Linked DNA regions of Homo sapiens: region 2 is linked to region 1. The links come from fine-mapping of genetic effects on gene expression. A gene starts in region 1. The other region holds a variant in brackets. All regions are shown on one strand. Distances are from middle to middle.

Region 1 (8,639 bases):
TTCAGTTGATGCAAGAAGACCACGGGGTGTGCATTATAATGGAAAAATCACAGTGGGATCACGCTGTTTGGTTCTTCATTGCACCTAAGGGCCCAAAGCTTCATGTTACATGGTGCGATGGTCTACAAGGCCCTCCTTATTTCCCTGACTTCATCTTCTATTCTCCTCACATTGTCAGCTCCAGTCACACTGGATTCCTTGGTGCTCCTCAAAGACACTAGGTGTGCCCTGCCTTAGGGTCTCACGTGTCTCTTCGCATTGTCTAAATCCCTCTTCACCAAGATGTCTATATAGCTACTTCTTCATCTCCCTCTTCACATCGTTGCTCAAATGGCATCTTGTCACTAAGTTCAACCCTTATCACCGTGCTTAACACTGCAATCTGCCTTCTTCTGCCCATGACCTTCCTTTTATCTGCTCTACATTTTTTCTATTCTTTATTGTACTTTTCACTTCTAACTCAGTAGCTAATTCCTATCTTTATTTTATATCTATATTTTTCCTGATAGAATGTAAGCTACATGAGGGCAGGGATCTTTGTTGAAGTCATTGATGTGTCCAACCACTTACAGCAGGGCTTAACCCAAAAAACATGGCTGGAGAAAGAGGAGAATTTTGTGGGGAGGTTTGAGCTTTGTGGGGGAAAAAAACTGGTGAGAAATTATGAAATATGAGAATATTACACAAGAAAGAGGGAGGTGGGGTTTGAAGAAATCTCCCTGGAGCCTATGTGTCCTTTTTGCAGTGTTTGAGAAATACAAATACAAAACTTGAGTTGTTTTAATTTGACATAGTCTAGGGTGTTTAAAAATATTTTAAAATTAATTTTTTATATAGGGAATACATGTACATTTCATAAAATTCAAAAGAAAAAAGAGTATGCAACGATAAGTCAATTTCTTCACCTCCCTTTGAGTCTTCTGGATACCCAGGTTCCCTCCCTAGAGCTGATCACCTGTGCGAGTTTCTTGAGTGTCCTCCTTCCCCATGTTGGCATCCCATATACAATGTTCTGTACGTTGCCTTTTCACTTAGTTTCCATATGAGTATTTATAGCTTCTGTATTGACACCTATATGTGTAGAGCTGTCTTGTCCTTTTTTATTTAGTGGCTAAAAAAATCCATCATATAGATGTGTTTGTAATATTTAACCAGTTTCCTATGATGGGTATTTGGACTATTTTCTTTCTTTTGCTGTTATAAGCAATGGTGCAATGAATCTATCTATCTATCTATCTATCTATCTATCTATCTATCTATCTATCTATCTATCATCTATCTATCTTAATCTACAAATGGCTTATGACATGAGCAGCAAATAATTTCCCCCAGTTTGTCCTTTGTCTTTCCTCATGTATTTTAAAATATTTTTACCATGAAAATATTTTTTGAGGTTCAATTTATTGGGTTTAGAAGGCCTTCACCACTTTAAGGTCCTGAAAAGAATCCTTGTGCTTTTCTTTCAATTTTTTTGTTTCATTTTTTCACATTTAAAAATTTGTTCCATCAGAATGTTTCTGATAAAAAGTGTGAGGTAGGGATATAACTTTATATTTTCAACTCCTTTTATTGAATAATCCACTCTTTACCCACTCCCCCACTGCCTTGCAGTGAACTTGATTATTTTGACTGGGAATAAATCACGTAGGTCACAATTTCATAAACATTACAATAATTTTTAACAGCTTTATAAGGATATAATTTGCACACCATAAAATTTACCAAAGTGTACAACTTAATGTACATCACAATCCAATTAAAGACTATTTTAAAACTCCAAAAAGAAACCTGTACCCCTTAGCTGTCACTCCACATACAATATGCTTTAAAACATTGAATTGAATTCATGAGTAGCTGGGACTACAAGTGTGTGCCACCACACCTGGCTAACTTTTGTATTTTTTAGAGAGATGAGGTTTCACCAAGTTACCCAGGTTGGTCTTGAACTCCTAAACTCAAGCGATCTGCCCACCTCGCCCTCCCAAAGTGCTGGGGTTTCAAGAGTGAGCTGCCACGCCCAACCTGGAAATACTGTTAATCTTGAACACGTCTGTCCTGGATGCTAATTATAAATAATCCTCCATCCTATTTTTCTGTAGGGATTACAAAGTAACAGGTTTTTGTTTTTAAAACACATTTAAAAAATTTAATTTGTGTTAGTTTAGATTCAAGAGGCTCCATGTTCATGTGCTTATATTTGAGGCAGAAATGTTGTATATAGTATTTTGTGAATTTATTTAGTCATGGAGCCCTTTGTTCTCGCTAAACTAGCCATGGAAAATACTTGGAGAAATACTGATTAACTCAGTACAAAGATTGAAATCCTGGAAAACATGTTCATAGATTGAGATCCCTTTGTAAATAGCATATTATTTTTTCCCCAGTGTAAGTAGACTCCAAGTATATTTTTTTCTTGGAAAAATAAAATATGTTGGTGGTGGGAATGTAAAATGGTGCAGCGCCTGTGGAAAACAGGATAGTGATTCCTCAAAAAAATTAAAGAGAATTACCATATGATATGGCAATTCCACTTTGGGGCATATATCCAAAAGAAGTAAAATCAGGGACTCAAACAAATATTTGCACATGCATGTTCGTAGCAGCAAGGACTCAAACAGATATTTGCATAGCCATATCTGCAGCGTTATTCACAATAGGCAAAAGGTGGAAGCAACCCAAGTGTCCATGGAAAGGTGAATGGATAAACAAAACCTGGTCTACACGTACAATGGAATCTTCTTCAGCCTTAAAAGGAAAGGAGATACTGACACATGCTACAACATGAGGAACCCTGAAGACAGTATATTATGTGAAATAAGCCAGTCACAAAAGGACAAATATTGTGTGATTCCTCTTACACAAAGTTCCTAGAGTAGTCACATTCATCAAGACTGAAAGTAGAATACTCACTGTTGGAGGAGGAAGGGAAGAGGGGAATGGGAATTTATGGTTTCATGGGTATAGAGAGTTTCAGTTTGGGAAGACGAAGAAGTCCTGGAGAGATGGTGATGATACTGCATAACAAAATGAATGTATTTAATGCTGCAGAACCGTACACATAAGAATGGTTGAAATGGTAAATTTTATGATATGTATATTTTACCATAATTAAAAAAACTGAATAAAAATGAATTGGAATGCAGGGAGAGCCCAGTATTCTTATTTCTGTGCCAGGTGTTTTAAGGACATCTTTTACTTTATCCTCACACCACTTGTTATGAAGTAAGTGCTATTACCTTCACTTTATAAGTAAGAACATTGATACTCTGTGGGCTCAAGTCCACACAGGCATGAAATGGTGCAGCCAGAATTTGTACTGAGTTCTTTTGTCTTCAAACACTTGAGTTTGTCCCTACATCATGTGAGGGAAACTATAACATATTACTTCATGACAAAGGGCTGGACTTGATAATTAATTCAAGTTGAAAATGTGCTTTGCCTGGAAATCATTAAGAAGAGAATAGGTAACCAGGAAAAGCCAAAACGGGACATTTTCTTGGCCTGCAGAGGTGGAGATTTCACAACAGCAAGCTCTGTGTTTCTCTTGTTGCACTGGGAGTGGCACTGTGATTGGGACAGGATGGAGACCTGAGCTGCTCATGCCTCAGTTCCTTTTATGTTGTTGTTCACCAGTTCTTTGCTTTTGGGGGCTCCAATTTTCCTCTGCAGAACTGCTTTTCCTGTTTGCCATGAATTAACCTCCTTCTCCTCCTGGCACTACTCAAGTCCCTGCAAGGCCACACAATTGCACTGTGTTATGGCTATCTATTGACTTGCTTGTTTCCCCACTAAAATGCAAACTCTAGGACAGAGACTAGTCTACAGTAGAGGCTCAATGAAGAAAAAAAAATTCATCAATATTTATTATTGTCAACAGTTCATTATTGATAAAGTTTTGACTACTTTATGGCACAGTGATTAAAAAAAACCCTGACATTTGCAAAACATTTTATATCCTAGAGAGCAATGCTAAGCCCATATCGTCCTCCCCAAAACCATCTTGTGGTAGGTTAGATGGGGAACCAAGGTCCTGAGAAGTCCCGCAACTTGTCTATGGTTAGAAAGCTAGTGTCAGTCCAGAGACTTGAAGCTAGGTCTTCAGTTTTATGGATTCTTCCTACAGAGCCATCTGTTTAATAAGCTAAAAAGCTCCCGTCACGAGAACAGGCCATTGCATCTACATTTGCCAAAATTCTAAAAAAAAGAGTAAACACCATACCTTGCTCTTAGATGGTGGGCTGCTGCAGGATTCTAAATCCACAAGAGACTGAGGATCTTTCATGAGAGCTCAGTGAAAAACTTGCTTTGGTACCAGACAGAATAACAGATCCAAATTCTCAAAGATTTCCAAATAGTTGTGCTAAAAATAATTTTCTCGTTTAGTCCCAAAGAGCCAAAGGCCCTGGAAGTCATTCATCGAGTGAGGCTCAACTCGGGGACCAGTTAAAATTACAGTTTTGTTTGGGATAAACTTTAAGTGCCTGCTTTCCTTCAGTGGTAAGTTTAGAGCTTCTCCATCTCTGTGTGTTGTGGCCTCTTTTTCAGATTTGTTTACTTAATTTTTTCCCTCTTCATTTGTTTTCCACTGAGTGAATGTTTCAGGAAAAAAATTACTCACTGACTGGAAATTAGTTGTTAACTTAGAGAAAAAAGCCATTTTATATTTGAGAGTTTTGGAGGTAGAGCCTTTAGATTCTGGACCTAGGATGGTGTCTTGTGGAATAATGAACACTGTCCCTATTCTTGGTAAATATGGCAGGAAAATAGCCCCTCATTCTATGTGCTGTGCAAAGAAAGAGGGTTATGAGAATTGCACTGATTTTGTTTTCTTTGTTCTTTGCTGAATGGATAAATGATTGGGTATTTTTAGAAAACTAATATGTCTTTGTGCCTGTAAAGAACTGATCATAACATCTCAAAAGGCAGAATGATTCTCCAAAGCATATGACTAGTCGTCTATGGTGCAATCAATTTCTTTGTTTCCTTCTGCTATGTATTTCTTATATTTCCTTGGCAACAGCAATATATAATTTATGATGTCATTTATGGAAATTAGACGACTGAAAAAAATCTTGTTTTTATCTTTCTTTTCCTCTCATTCTTCTCAAGCAATGAGAACTCTAATTGAAAGGAATGTTTCCAGAGTTAGTGAAGTGGATGTTGACCACACACTTGACCAACGAGATTGCTGGGCTCCCCGTTCTGACCAGCTTAATTTTGCCTTTGGGATCCACTCTCCACACTGGAGGAAATGGTCCTTTGAATTTGTTGGCTTTCCAAAATCTTAATGCCATCATAGGATGGTCAAAACAATGTCTTGAGCATAGAAGCTAGTCATAACTTATTGCTAAATTAGAGTCAGATTTTAATCAGATAAAGTCTCTGTGTCTGTTTTCTCACTTTCAAAATAAGATGGTTGTCCTTGATTATTTCCAGGGTTTCTCATAGTTCTTAATATTCTCGAACCAAATGATGGTGTCTGATGTCACCCATTTACAAGCTTAATTTCAGGTGATACAGCCTTTTAATATGTTCATTTATTTGTTTATAAGTGATAACTTCTTAAGTGGGCTTTTTCCATTATGTCTGCTTTGGAGTAGCCCAGTCTCTGCCAGGGAGCTCAGAAGTGGATGAATTTGTAGACCAATAAAAGAATAGATGCATTCTTATTTTTCTGCCTTAAAGTGTTGATACAATTTGTGGATATTCATATTTTCTTTTCTGTGTCATTCACAACTTCTCTAATTTCTCTTTAATGTTACTTACCACATAAAATAAGGTTTTTTGTATCATTAAAGTATTACAGTATTTTTTCTGTTCTTCAATAAAAATTGAATTTCTTCTTTTTCTTCTTTATTATTTTCATCCCAGATAATTTATTGTAATCTGTGTCTTTCTGAACTCATTCTTTTTCCCAGAGAGAATGAACCTTTGAAAATGTCTCTGAGAGTGTTCAGAACCTCAGATGTTGATAAAGCTTGTCAGTGTCTATTTCACTCAGTTATTTTCACACTTAGAAGCAGTGGTGAAGTGATGGGTAGAAAAATATGCTTAAGGAAGTATTGGCTCAGAGTAAAAGTCAGATTCCATTTTTACCTGCCACTCACCCCAAGGACGGGGTCTTATTTTGTCTTTCCTAGGCAGATAATCTTCCTTTCTCAACTTGTGCTCTTTTTTACCCCATATCCTTTATTTACTTTTCAACTGAATTCATTCCATTCCATTCCAATCCCATCAGTGTTCCCAGAGCACCTAACAGTTTGCCGCTAACCTAGCTCTCAAAAAGAAGGTTCAGATTTGTAGCTTTTGTTAGTTTTCTTGGAGTGAATACCCCCGCCATGGTCAATTTCAAGCTAACAATCTGACCTTCACTGAATGCAGAGTTGGAAAGTTATAGAATGTAGAATTGTAGAATTCGCACTTGCTGGCAGGTATAAGCCAGCTCTGCTCACCACTACACACATACATACACACACACTCACACACCATTTTTCTAGGTGGTAGAAGTATTTTAAAAAGAAGGTTCTAGCTGATATGTAATGAGCATGTACAACGTGCTAAGACATGACAAGCATCACTTTCTTTAATCCTCATCATAACCTCTTGAGGTGAGTAATTGTATTATCCTCCTTCTACAGATGAGTAATTTAGACAGTCTGATCCACAATTGACACACCTAACTACTTACCATATTTCCTCCCTAGGTTGTTGCTAACTTTAAAAGACCATGTTTTTGCATCCAAACAACTTGCAGTTGCATACCCTCTGTTTCTTCCTCCTCCTCTCCATGGGTGCCCTGGGTTCTGTTAGGAATTGAATCTTCTCTTTGTAACCTCAGTGCCTTGCTTATATCATCTCCAGTAGCTGCAAGCCATTACCAACCATGTCTCCCCTATGCCTCTTTCTCCATCTGTTCACATTTATCTTCTGTATGCATCACTTTCTACAGAAAGTCTCCCTGATATTCTCAAGCAGGCACAACCCTGTCTTCTCCTGAACCCTTCTAGCACGTAATTTGGATCTGCCATGCACTTTAGCTCACTGGCTCTTAACTAGATCTACTGAATGAGCATATCAGTAGATTAAGTTAGGCATTAATATTTTTTAAAAGCTCTATGGGTGATTCCAATGGGCAGCCAGGCTCTAGGAATCTTTGCCTTATCTACTCTTGCTCAAATGATGCCTTATCTGCTTGTCCTTACAAACCGGGGAGTTGTAGTGATACAAATCTGGTCTTCTTTGTGTCTCATCCTGTTCTTTTATTTATTACTTCATCACTTATTTATTTAGCTGCTACTATATGTCAGATGCTGAATGCTTGGTCTGGGTATTCAGTAGAGAGCAAACAAAGAGACCTTGTAGAGACAAAATCTAGTGAGGAAGAGAGATATTTATGAAATAATCACAGAACTGTGCTTAACAGGATATGAATTGGGAATTCCCATCCACTTGGAATTTCAGCTGAGAACACAAAGCAGAGAATGATAGGCAACCAATGCTCATACATCGACTTAGAACTTGTTAAAATCCAGCTGGATCTGACAGTGACCATCAGCCATTTTCAGTCCACATAAAAGAAAGCTAGAAATTCAGAAAAGATTAGTGGTTGAAGAGAGGCATCAAGGTAGAGTTGTGGAGAAGGGAGAGGAGTGCAGGGGCAGCTGTTAGAGAGGCAAGAATATATGCACTCCCCAAGAGGGAGATGGTACTGAGGAAGGCAGCTGAGTGGGGCCATCGTGATGGGACTTCCTGAGCCAAGGAGTCCTCCTAGTGGGGGGAGGCCACTAAGAAGTCACTGGGTGTATCACTGAGTACAGAATCTGAGGCTGGTGGGGGGAGCACTGCAAGCTATCAACCAAGGAACACCTTCACCCCGAAAGAGCCAGCATTTGGCTACCTGGAGTGCATAGCAGACATTGGAGCCAGGAGAGGATCATACAAGTAGCACTTACTAAGTAAGAATAATTCAGTCACTTTTTTCCTGATTATTCTACTCTCTGACCTGACTCAAGAGGAGCTGAAAGTGAAAGGAAGTGGCAGGAGATGGGGGAAGAGTGAAAGGGTACAGCATATCCTGAACTACAGCCATGGAGATGGACAAGTATTGTATTGGATATAAAATAGAAAATTTGATTGAGATTTGTCTTTTTAATATCTGAAAATGAGTCACAATTGACTAATAAAATTGTTCATGTAACTGGAAGTTACCAGAAAGCCAAGAAATTTGCCTGAGATGTCATAAAAGGGCAGGGAAGAAAGATCCAACAGAATTTGGCTAGAACAAATGATGGAAGAAAAATGAGGTTATTTTTTATTCATTTCATATTAAGGACAGTTAATACCATTTGATAAACTCAATAAGTTTTGGAGAATGCTTGAAGGAAAAAAATAAAGGATATTGTGGAGTGTTTAGCCGGACAACCCAGTTGAATCTTGCCTAAAGAACTTGCCTAAATAAGAGAGAACTTGCCTAAAGGAATGACATCTGACCTAAAAGGGGGGGAAACGGTAGGCATGAACCTGGCAGAAGGGCAGGAAAACACATCCAGGCTGAGAGAATGTCATATGCAAAGGCCCTGAGGTGGAAGAGGATGATGCTGAGTGGAGGCCAGTGGGAAAGAGCAAAGGCAGGCATAAGC
Region 2 (8,639 bases), 55 kb after region 1:
AGATATTATAGCTTTATTTCAATTTGATGATGAATCCTATTGAGTTGCACAAATTTGCCATGAAAAGCCTACCAGAGAAAGAAATCCACCCATCTGCTGATGATTGAAACCTGATGCAATCAAAGATGATAGAAAGTTCAGATGACATGGGCCAAAAGTTGAAGAAAGCACGGGGGTATCAACAAGATAGGAAATAACCCTGAAATAGTGTTGATTCTGACCACAGGGTAATCCACAAATTTGAGTTGGGGAAAATGTCAAATTTCTCATCTCTATCAGGACTTTTCACCTTCTTCAGGTTAGGTCATATTGGATATAACAATTTCCATTTTGTCCCAGATTATAGAACTGTCAAACTTTAGTATATACCAGAATCATCTAGATAATTTATTAACAAAGGGGCACAGGGACCTACTTTAATTAAAGAGATTCTGTGCCAAGCACAGAGTGAGGGCTTAATTGATGGTGACCATTAGCATTGTTATTTATTTCACTCTTCCCCAAAGGGCAGGTGTGGGCCTGACCCATTCATTCACAGATTGGCAAGAGAAAGAAAAAATATGCACAAAACTTGGAATTTGAAAACCTGTGTTCAGACATCAGTGCTGCTAATTTCTAGGTATGTGACTTTGGATGAGTCACTTCATGTCTTTGAGCTTCAGTTTACTCGTCTGAAATCATCACAGTCAATAATGTTTATTTAGAAGGCCATTGTAAGAACTGGATAAAGGAATGCAGAAGAAAGAATCCAACAACAAAAGGGCAGGAGGCTGTGGTTTAAAATGTGGACTTTCTCTATTATGATTAAAACACTCATTTACTTCCAAATCCCAGCCCTGCCAGCCATCATTACCTGTGTAATTGTAGGCAAGTAAACCTCGCTAGCCTTGGTTTTCTCATATATGAAAGAGACAAAAACAATACTTTGTCTATATCAACTCTCAAACTTTACATGAACCCTGCTGTTATGAGCTCTATTTTATTGTAAGGGAACTGAGGCACAGAGGAGTTAAGTAACCCAACCCAGATTCACACAGATGCCAATCTGGTTTGTGTCTCCAGGAACTCTGCTTCAGAGTCTCTACACCTTACTAGTGAGCCTGCTGCTCCCACGAGTGCACAAGGCATGTTTAGGAAGGGCCCAGCACACGACAAATGCTCAGTAAATATTTCCCCAAATTTGAATAACTTACTTTCACATTACAAACTTCATCCTTCTATTTCGTTACGCAGTCCACTGCACAGCTCAGACAGTCAGTGTTCAACCCTATTTAGCTATTGCCCGTGAACACAAAAGTGCACTTGGGCTGCATAAAAACTACAGACATGTTTATACAAGAAGGGGAACATTGTGTCACATTTGGTTTTTATTGCTTTCAGCACATTAGGCACATACTATCTGTTTATTAGGTAAAGGTGAAAGGTTACAGATCACCTTAGAATAAAAGTATAGATGAGTTGCTTGAGAAAGGGCTACATAGAAAATTGCTGTTATAAATGTACAGTAACCTAGAGCCTTTCGACTCTTGGAAGCAGCTTATGTGTGTGCTGACAATGACTGACATACTGGAAATGAAACCCGTCTTAACAGTACAGGATGTGGAAGTACACACCAAAATTACTCAAAGAGAGGAAAGGAAGTCAGATGTCAACTAGAGTTAAGGGCAATTATTATTTATTTTGGAGGAGCTTTCCAGTGAGTTGGGGGAACACAACCCAGGCTGAGGGTGTGGGGTCTTATTGAAATCATGAATCAGAACAAATTGGGAGATACATAGTCTGATGATAAGACAGAGTGTGAGGACTCGGGACATATGTTCCTTGCAGCCATAGAATTCATGATGAGGGACTTGCAAAATGGACATTCAAGTTCCTGAGGACAAAGGCTGATCCAAACAAAACGATTCCGTTCAAGTTTGTTGTATTTCTTTTAACTACTTCCCAGTCATTACCCACAATTTGATTTGAAATACTTATAAAAGAAATGTACCCCAGTACAATGCATCATTTATGAAATTATGCATTCCATTTATAGAATTACTATTAATGCAAACTCATAGTTTTACCAACACAATTTAGATATTTCTGCTTCCATATTGCAATGATTGCATTATCCTCCCATGGCCAAGTGGAGTGGTAAGCACATTCGTTTAATAATAAAATAGACAGTAAATAAATCAACACCCTTAATGAATGCTAAATTGAACACAGAATTTATGCCACTATAAGGAAATCTCCACAGAACAATATTCACTTTAATGCTTTCTTTTTCCTCTACTAAAATCCTACAGTGTATCAAAATGAAGAAAGCACCTTCAATGTGAATTATGTAGGAATGGACACGATGACAATTCTGTTTTTCAGAGTAGGGTTACAGAGACACTTCTGCTTGCCCCCGCGAGTGTCGGTGTCAGCCTCACACTCCTCTTGAGTATGGATCTATAGCTATGAAGGAGCATAATTGGCAAGGAAGGGCTTTTCAAAACTAACCCTTCCCAAGCAAAGCCGATTCTGACGACTTTCGCTTTCCCTCTCTTGTTCAGCAGAAGCAACCCCCAGAGGAGTTGTGTTATTGACTAAGCCCCAGTCGGTAAACACCCCTGAACATCATAAAAAAAAAGAGAGAGAGAGAGAGAGAAACACCAACATGAGCCAAAAGACGCCTTTCTAAGGAAAAAAAGCCTGAAGACGTTTATCAATGGAGAGAGGGCTGTTTACTTACATTGCTCACAAGACCTTCCAACAGCTGGAGTCTTTGAACTCTAGTGTGCGCAGATGTGGAGCTTTTGCTCAAAATCCCCTTCCCTTTGGCAGCGAGGATTATTCATAATTCTTTGGGGCTTCAGATTGATAAGTAATTTCCTGATTCGCTTTCAAAAGCGTTCTCCCAGGCTTTGAGCGGTGGCAGAGAGAGGGAGCGGGCAAGGACCCCGGCGTGCAATGACGCTGTGGCCTACACAGATCTCCTGATTGTTTGATCGAGCCCGAAAGAAGACGTCGACATTACAAACAAAAATAAATATCCTTCTTTATCTGTTGGCTCGCTCCCCAAATCATATTTGGGAAATAGCACAGTGAGTCTGGACAATATTTTTTCTAAAAGTGTGATATTAGCTGAACACCTTCTCATTGTTGTGCTGGGAGAGATCAGGGCACCTCTGACTGGTCTTCAAAGACCAGCAGTTGCAATTTCTTTCTTATCAGCTACTTTACAGGATGTTCTTAGAGACCAAGCAGCCCAGCCCCTTCGGTTGACAGTAGAAAGAAACGATGCCCAGGGCTTACAAGACTTGACCAGCATCACACAGCTAGTTAGTGGAAGGACAGGAACCTAAGAGCCGACTGTCAAGCCAGTGCTGTGTCCACTGTAGGGAGGTGGAGGCAGATGCAAGGGCTGGAGATCTGACTCTCGATCTTTTAAGATACCTATCACTGGACATGGCCCTTAATGTTTCTGAGTCTTGATTTTCACAGCTGCAGAATGAAAATCGTAATAGTAACCCTTGCTTGGTCATACAATGTGGTAATCTCTCTGAAAGCATTTTGTCCAGGATGAAAGCAATTGTATCCTAAGATGAAATTTTGTCGTCACAGCCCCATTTACATGCTTCTCTTCTCCTTTCCATTCTCATTTTCCATTCGGTGTTATTTTCTGACTGAAAGAAACCATTGAGTGACTTTTGGATGGAGAAGGAGGAGTATAGTGGCCAGGAAATGAGATAGAATATGGAGAAAATTTTACCTTGGAAATCCAGGTCAAGATTAGATGAAAGGGTATACAGCATATACAGCATATCTTAACATGTGCCTCAGAAAGAACACTAGATCTAGAAATAGAAAATCAAGGCTTGGCCACTGCCTGGAACACTTAACAGCCAAGGGAGCCCTGTGGAGTCATTTAAACGTTCCAAAACACAGTTGACTCACTGGGTATGTGATCCCTGTCCCATTGCACTTACCTCATTTTGTTGTGGTTAGAATCAAATGAGGTGTTTATCAAGATAGTGCTTTGCAATGTTTTAGGCTTTGAAACTATAAAGTAGTTGCCATGGTTTGAATATACGTGTTTCCCCACAAATTCATACGTTGGAACCTAAGATCCAATGTGATAATATTAAGAGGTGGAGCATTTAGGAGGTCATTAGGTCACAATGGCAGGGCTCTCGTGAATGGGATTCATGACCTTGTACAAGGGCTGGAAGGAGATAGCTAAGCCCTTTTTGCCCTCTACCCTTCTGTCATGTGTGGACATAGCATTTGTCCCTCTGGAGGACTTAGCAACAAGGTGCCATCTTGGAAGCAGAGACAGAGCCCTCACCAGGCCTTAAACCTGTTGGCACCTTGATCTTGGATATCCCAGCCTCTAGAACTGTCAGAAATAAATTTCTGTTGTTTATAAATTACTTAGTCTGTGGTATTTTGTTATAGC[A/G]GTACTAATGGGCTGAGACAGTGGTATTTTCCAGCGGGATGTGCAACTACCATTGCCCATTTCATCTGTGTCATTGGCTGACACCACTAGGTGCCAGGGCTCCTGGGTTCTGCCTTGACTTTTTTTCCCCCTTTTCCTTTTAGGAGTGTATTTCATCTTTTTTCCCTTGTTATCCACCTCTTGGTACTTGTCTCCCATGCTTGCTGCTATTGGTTTTCTTTCTTAGGACTCAAATTGTCCTTCCATTTTTCATGTAATGTTAAGAATGAAGAACAAAGAGAAAATATTTTGTTCAGTCACACAGAAAGGCATCCACGGTATCTTGACACAAATGGGAATGTCTTTATTTTTGAAGTAGCCATGAACAAAGATCAAATGAATCAAGATCAGCGCCCCCTTGAAAATGATCAAGTCACAAGTCCAACTCATATTTTATGGTTCCATTCACTATCTTACCCTTTTATTAATTTATTATTTGAATGTTATTTAAGATTTGCACTCTATCATCTGTAAGAAGAATTTTCTAGTAGAGTCTTGCTTGGGCTGCCATAACAAAATACCATAGACTGGGTGGCATAAACAACAGAAATGTATTTTCTCACAGTTCTGGAGTCTGGAAGTCTGAGATCTGGGTGCCAGCGTGGTTGGATTCTGGTGAGGCTTCTCTTCTTGACTTGCAGATGGCTGCCTCCCTTCTGTGTCCTCATATGGTGGGCAGAGGGAGATCTTTCTCTTCCTTTTCTTAAGAGACCATAGTCCTATTGGATTATGGACCCATCCTATGACCTCATTTAAGTTGGATTAGCTATGAACGCCTCTATCTCCTGATAAAGCCGTAATAGGGGTTAAAGCTTCAACACATGAATTTTGGGGTGACACAATTCAGTCCATAGCAAGCCTGCGGGAAGTAAAAGAAGGGAACGAATACTTATTGAGCCTTTTTTTTTCCCTCACTGAATTGTCAAAACAACATTGATATCTTGGTAGTGACTTTTCTAAGGTCACAAAGCTAGTAAGCAGCAGTGACCAAATGTAAACCATGACGACAAGAACCCTGCTCCCCTCATGACACATTCTGCCTCCACCTCCTCTTTTCTCCGAGATTCTGAGCTGTGACCCTTTCCTTTCCTTTCCTACTCTTTCCTATTGAGTTGCCTGGAGGCAAGACATTGTTACCCAGAGCACCATGAGAAGGAAGCCATGGGGATTCCCTCCATGTGCCCACTGAGCTTAGATTGACAGCTGTAGAGAGTTTGCCTGGAATGTTCTCTTCCTGCATCCCTCCCAGCCCCCTTCATGTTAATAAGTCCCTTCATTAGTTCAAACTGAACTCACATGCTTCTTCCCCGGGATGTTTTCTTTAATCTGACCCTCCGCACCCTTGCTCTTCCTCGCTATATTCTCTTATACTGTCCTACACTTCCCCTTTATAATTTTTTCTCCTTTCATAGGATGTCATAAGTGTCATTTTATTATTGTAGTGGTTATAGCAATAGGTATATATTTCTAAGATAATTTGCATAATGGTTGTCTCCCTCACCAGTCTGTAAGCTCCCTGAAGCCAGGGATGCTTTGCTCACTAAGATATGTCCAGCCATTAGGACACTAACATGAAAAGCTACAGAGGAGCAAGGGAGGATTAGACAGGGGCAAGCCGGGGAAAATAAATAGTAGAAGAAAGGCCCTTCAAAATTCTTCTGCAGCAGTATGACTAGCAAGCATACGCCCAAGAACAGTCTAATGAGGCCCCTTTATTAAGCCCTCTGTGTACCACCAAATGCATTCTTCCCCTGTCGATTTTGCTAGGTTTGGCTAATCAAGAATGAGGTTGTTAATGTGGAGAGAGGCAGCTTGAGGAGCGGATCTTGGGTCGCATCTGCTGTCTGCTGGTCAATGCCTGGGTTCCTGCAAGGGCAGCACAGCCTGGCCCTCTGCAGGATGGAGCTGCCTGTTCATACCCCAACAGCCTCAGTCTCTTCCTAGAAAGAGCTGACGGGACAGGGCGTGAAGATGTGTAGGAACTAGGAGGAATTCCTACCAGGGAAAGACATTTTCAGTTGAAGGAACCACATGTGCAAAGAAACGGAATGACAGCATGTTGTGTTTAGGGAACCTCAAGAAGCCTAGTTTTGTTGGTGAGTTACAATAGGAAATGTGATAGTAGAAATGAAAGTATCAGATAAATCTTAAGTGTTTCCATTATTATCTATTTCTCAAAATTGTTTGGAGGGCCAATGAGAGAGTACATGTGGAATTGCTTTATAAACTGGAAAAAAATCCTACGAAAATATTTTTATTACAAATTCTTTTGGATGAAGATAACTAGAATATTAGGCTAAGAAACCATGCTGGGAAATGGAACTATTTATAAATTTCTTTTATTTATAAACCTAAAGTTTTGATTAATTTCCTTCTTATAATCTCCTTTCAAAGGCTAGAATGTAAGTTTATAGTATCTGTTGAATATGAGTGAGTTGGGATGTATGTTTTCAACTCAGCACCATCCCTGGCCCTTTCCACTCTCTCTCTCTCTGAGGGAACAGAGACTGGAAGCCTGGAACTACATTTCCCAGAATCACTTGTAGGCAGAGTTCCTAATTACAGCCAGCCAAGGAGGGCACACACAGGGTTGTGAAAGATACAAAATAATTAGAGAACATTATTCTTTGGTGTCAGTTACAGAGTGGAAACAGCCAGCTGATGTATGGTTTGCAGGAACTTCTGGGTGAGATCCTAGAATCTCACACTTTCCTATGGCTTCCCAGCAAGCTTGTTCTTCTCAGTTTATAGCCAAACAGAATGCTTTTTTTCGCCAGTTGTTGGTCCCATGAACCCCTTTTAAACAATTATTTTTTATTTAGAAATATTTATAGACTCATAAGAGGTTACAAAAAAATTTACAAAAATACCCTAGCCTCTTCAAATGGTGACATCTTATATCACTATAATAATCATAGAATTAAAAAAAATCGACATGAGTACAATAGTATTAGGCAGACTACAGACCTTCTTCAGTTTTTACCAGTTTTTATGTAGATTTACTTGTGTGTTGCATAGTTCAGTATAGTTGAATACAATATGATCTCATGTATAGATTCTTTACAGTTCTTTAAATGGCTCTTTAAGACTTTAATTTCTTGTCTTAAATCTCTACCTGATGCTATTTTCTTAACTGAATGCTGACTGAGGTGGTTAATACTTTCTTGGTGTTATCTCACATTTGAAGTCTTGCAGTCAAATTATGGTGCTTACCTTCCATTATCTTCATTAATGTATTCAACTGAAATATCACTGACTGATACAACTTCACAGGCCTTCTTTCCCATTGTTTTCATCACAGGATTACAAAGGCATTCCCAGTGTATCATTACATTATATGTAAGTTACCACAAAAGATTTTTAGCTATTCGTTGGGCTGTTAATTGCTCAGTTTTCAAAGTCATTCTTACTGTAGTAGATTAAAAATGCAAAACTTTTTAAATCATTCTTAAATAATGGTAAAATAATTTATATATGATAAGGCAGGAAACAAACAATAACAGATGTAGCTGATGGATAGGAGGAGGCTAAGCTATCATTCTTGAAGATAATAAAACTATACACCTAAACAATGCAGCAAATTTAACAAGGGCCATTAGAAATAATATATGTTTAACAGAGTTTATAGATACAAAAATACATACATGAAAGTAGCCTTCCTATATATCAAAATAATCAGAAAACAGAATGTTTAAAAACCCTCTAAAATCTAAAGTGATGCTGGTTTCCCTGCAGAGGAAGGAGAGACTTGCCTCTCCCTAATTCTGGGCTGTTTTCTCACTTGAGCCTTAATCAGCACAACTTGTGTGCAGAGACTCTCAAAATTTTGCTAAAATATTTTGTTTCTTTCCCTTCTCATCCTTACCTCTGACTCACTAACCACAAGCGATCAAAATCTGGTCTGAAGAAGCCGAGGGAAATGAACACTATGACATGTTCTTTGTCCCTTCCTAATTAAGACATATTTCCTCTCAAAATATCCTAGCCTGCAGAGATGGTCCCTGGCTGTAACTCAATTTTTTTCTTTTTTACATCATTTTCTCCAAGACAGTGTAACAACTTAAAACCACATATTTCAGAAAATGATCTTCGCTTTACATTCACCATTTGGTTGGCTTTCCCAGAATAAATGAACCATCTGCCCTAAAGAACTCTGCAAGTCTTTGCTACT

Direction of the effects. Alleles are on the strand shown, and positions count from the first base shown. SD is a standard deviation of normalised expression in the study named.
For the expression in ovary of the gene that starts at base 4,293 in region 1, A is the low allele of the variant in region 2 and G is the other (moderate effect, 0.41 SD a copy in GTEx).

Evidence for each region. PIP is the estimated chance that this variant, and not a neighbour inherited with it, causes the effect.
Region 2: its variant is fine-mapped to the expression of C1QTNF7 in ovary (GTEx, PIP 0.98).

Annotation. Positions count from the first base shown.
Region 1 is chr4:15,423,687-15,432,325 of GRCh38, reverse strand. C1QTNF7 (C1q and TNF related 7) reads right to left here and starts at 4,293. Exons shown (of 3, transcript NM_031911.5): 1 at 4,220-4,293. C1QTNF7-AS1 (C1QTNF7 antisense RNA 1) reads left to right here and starts at 4,412. Exons shown (of 6, transcript NR_125911.1): 1 at 4,412-4,497.
Region 2 is chr4:15,368,853-15,377,491 of GRCh38, reverse strand. The region is part of intron 1 of C1QTNF7-AS1 (C1QTNF7 antisense RNA 1); the gene reads left to right. It also overlaps a transcript of C1QTNF7 not described here. Among named protein-coding and RNA genes, the nearest start is that of C1QTNF7-AS1, 55 kb to the left of the region's middle. The variant A/G (reference allele first, on the strand shown) is at 4,430.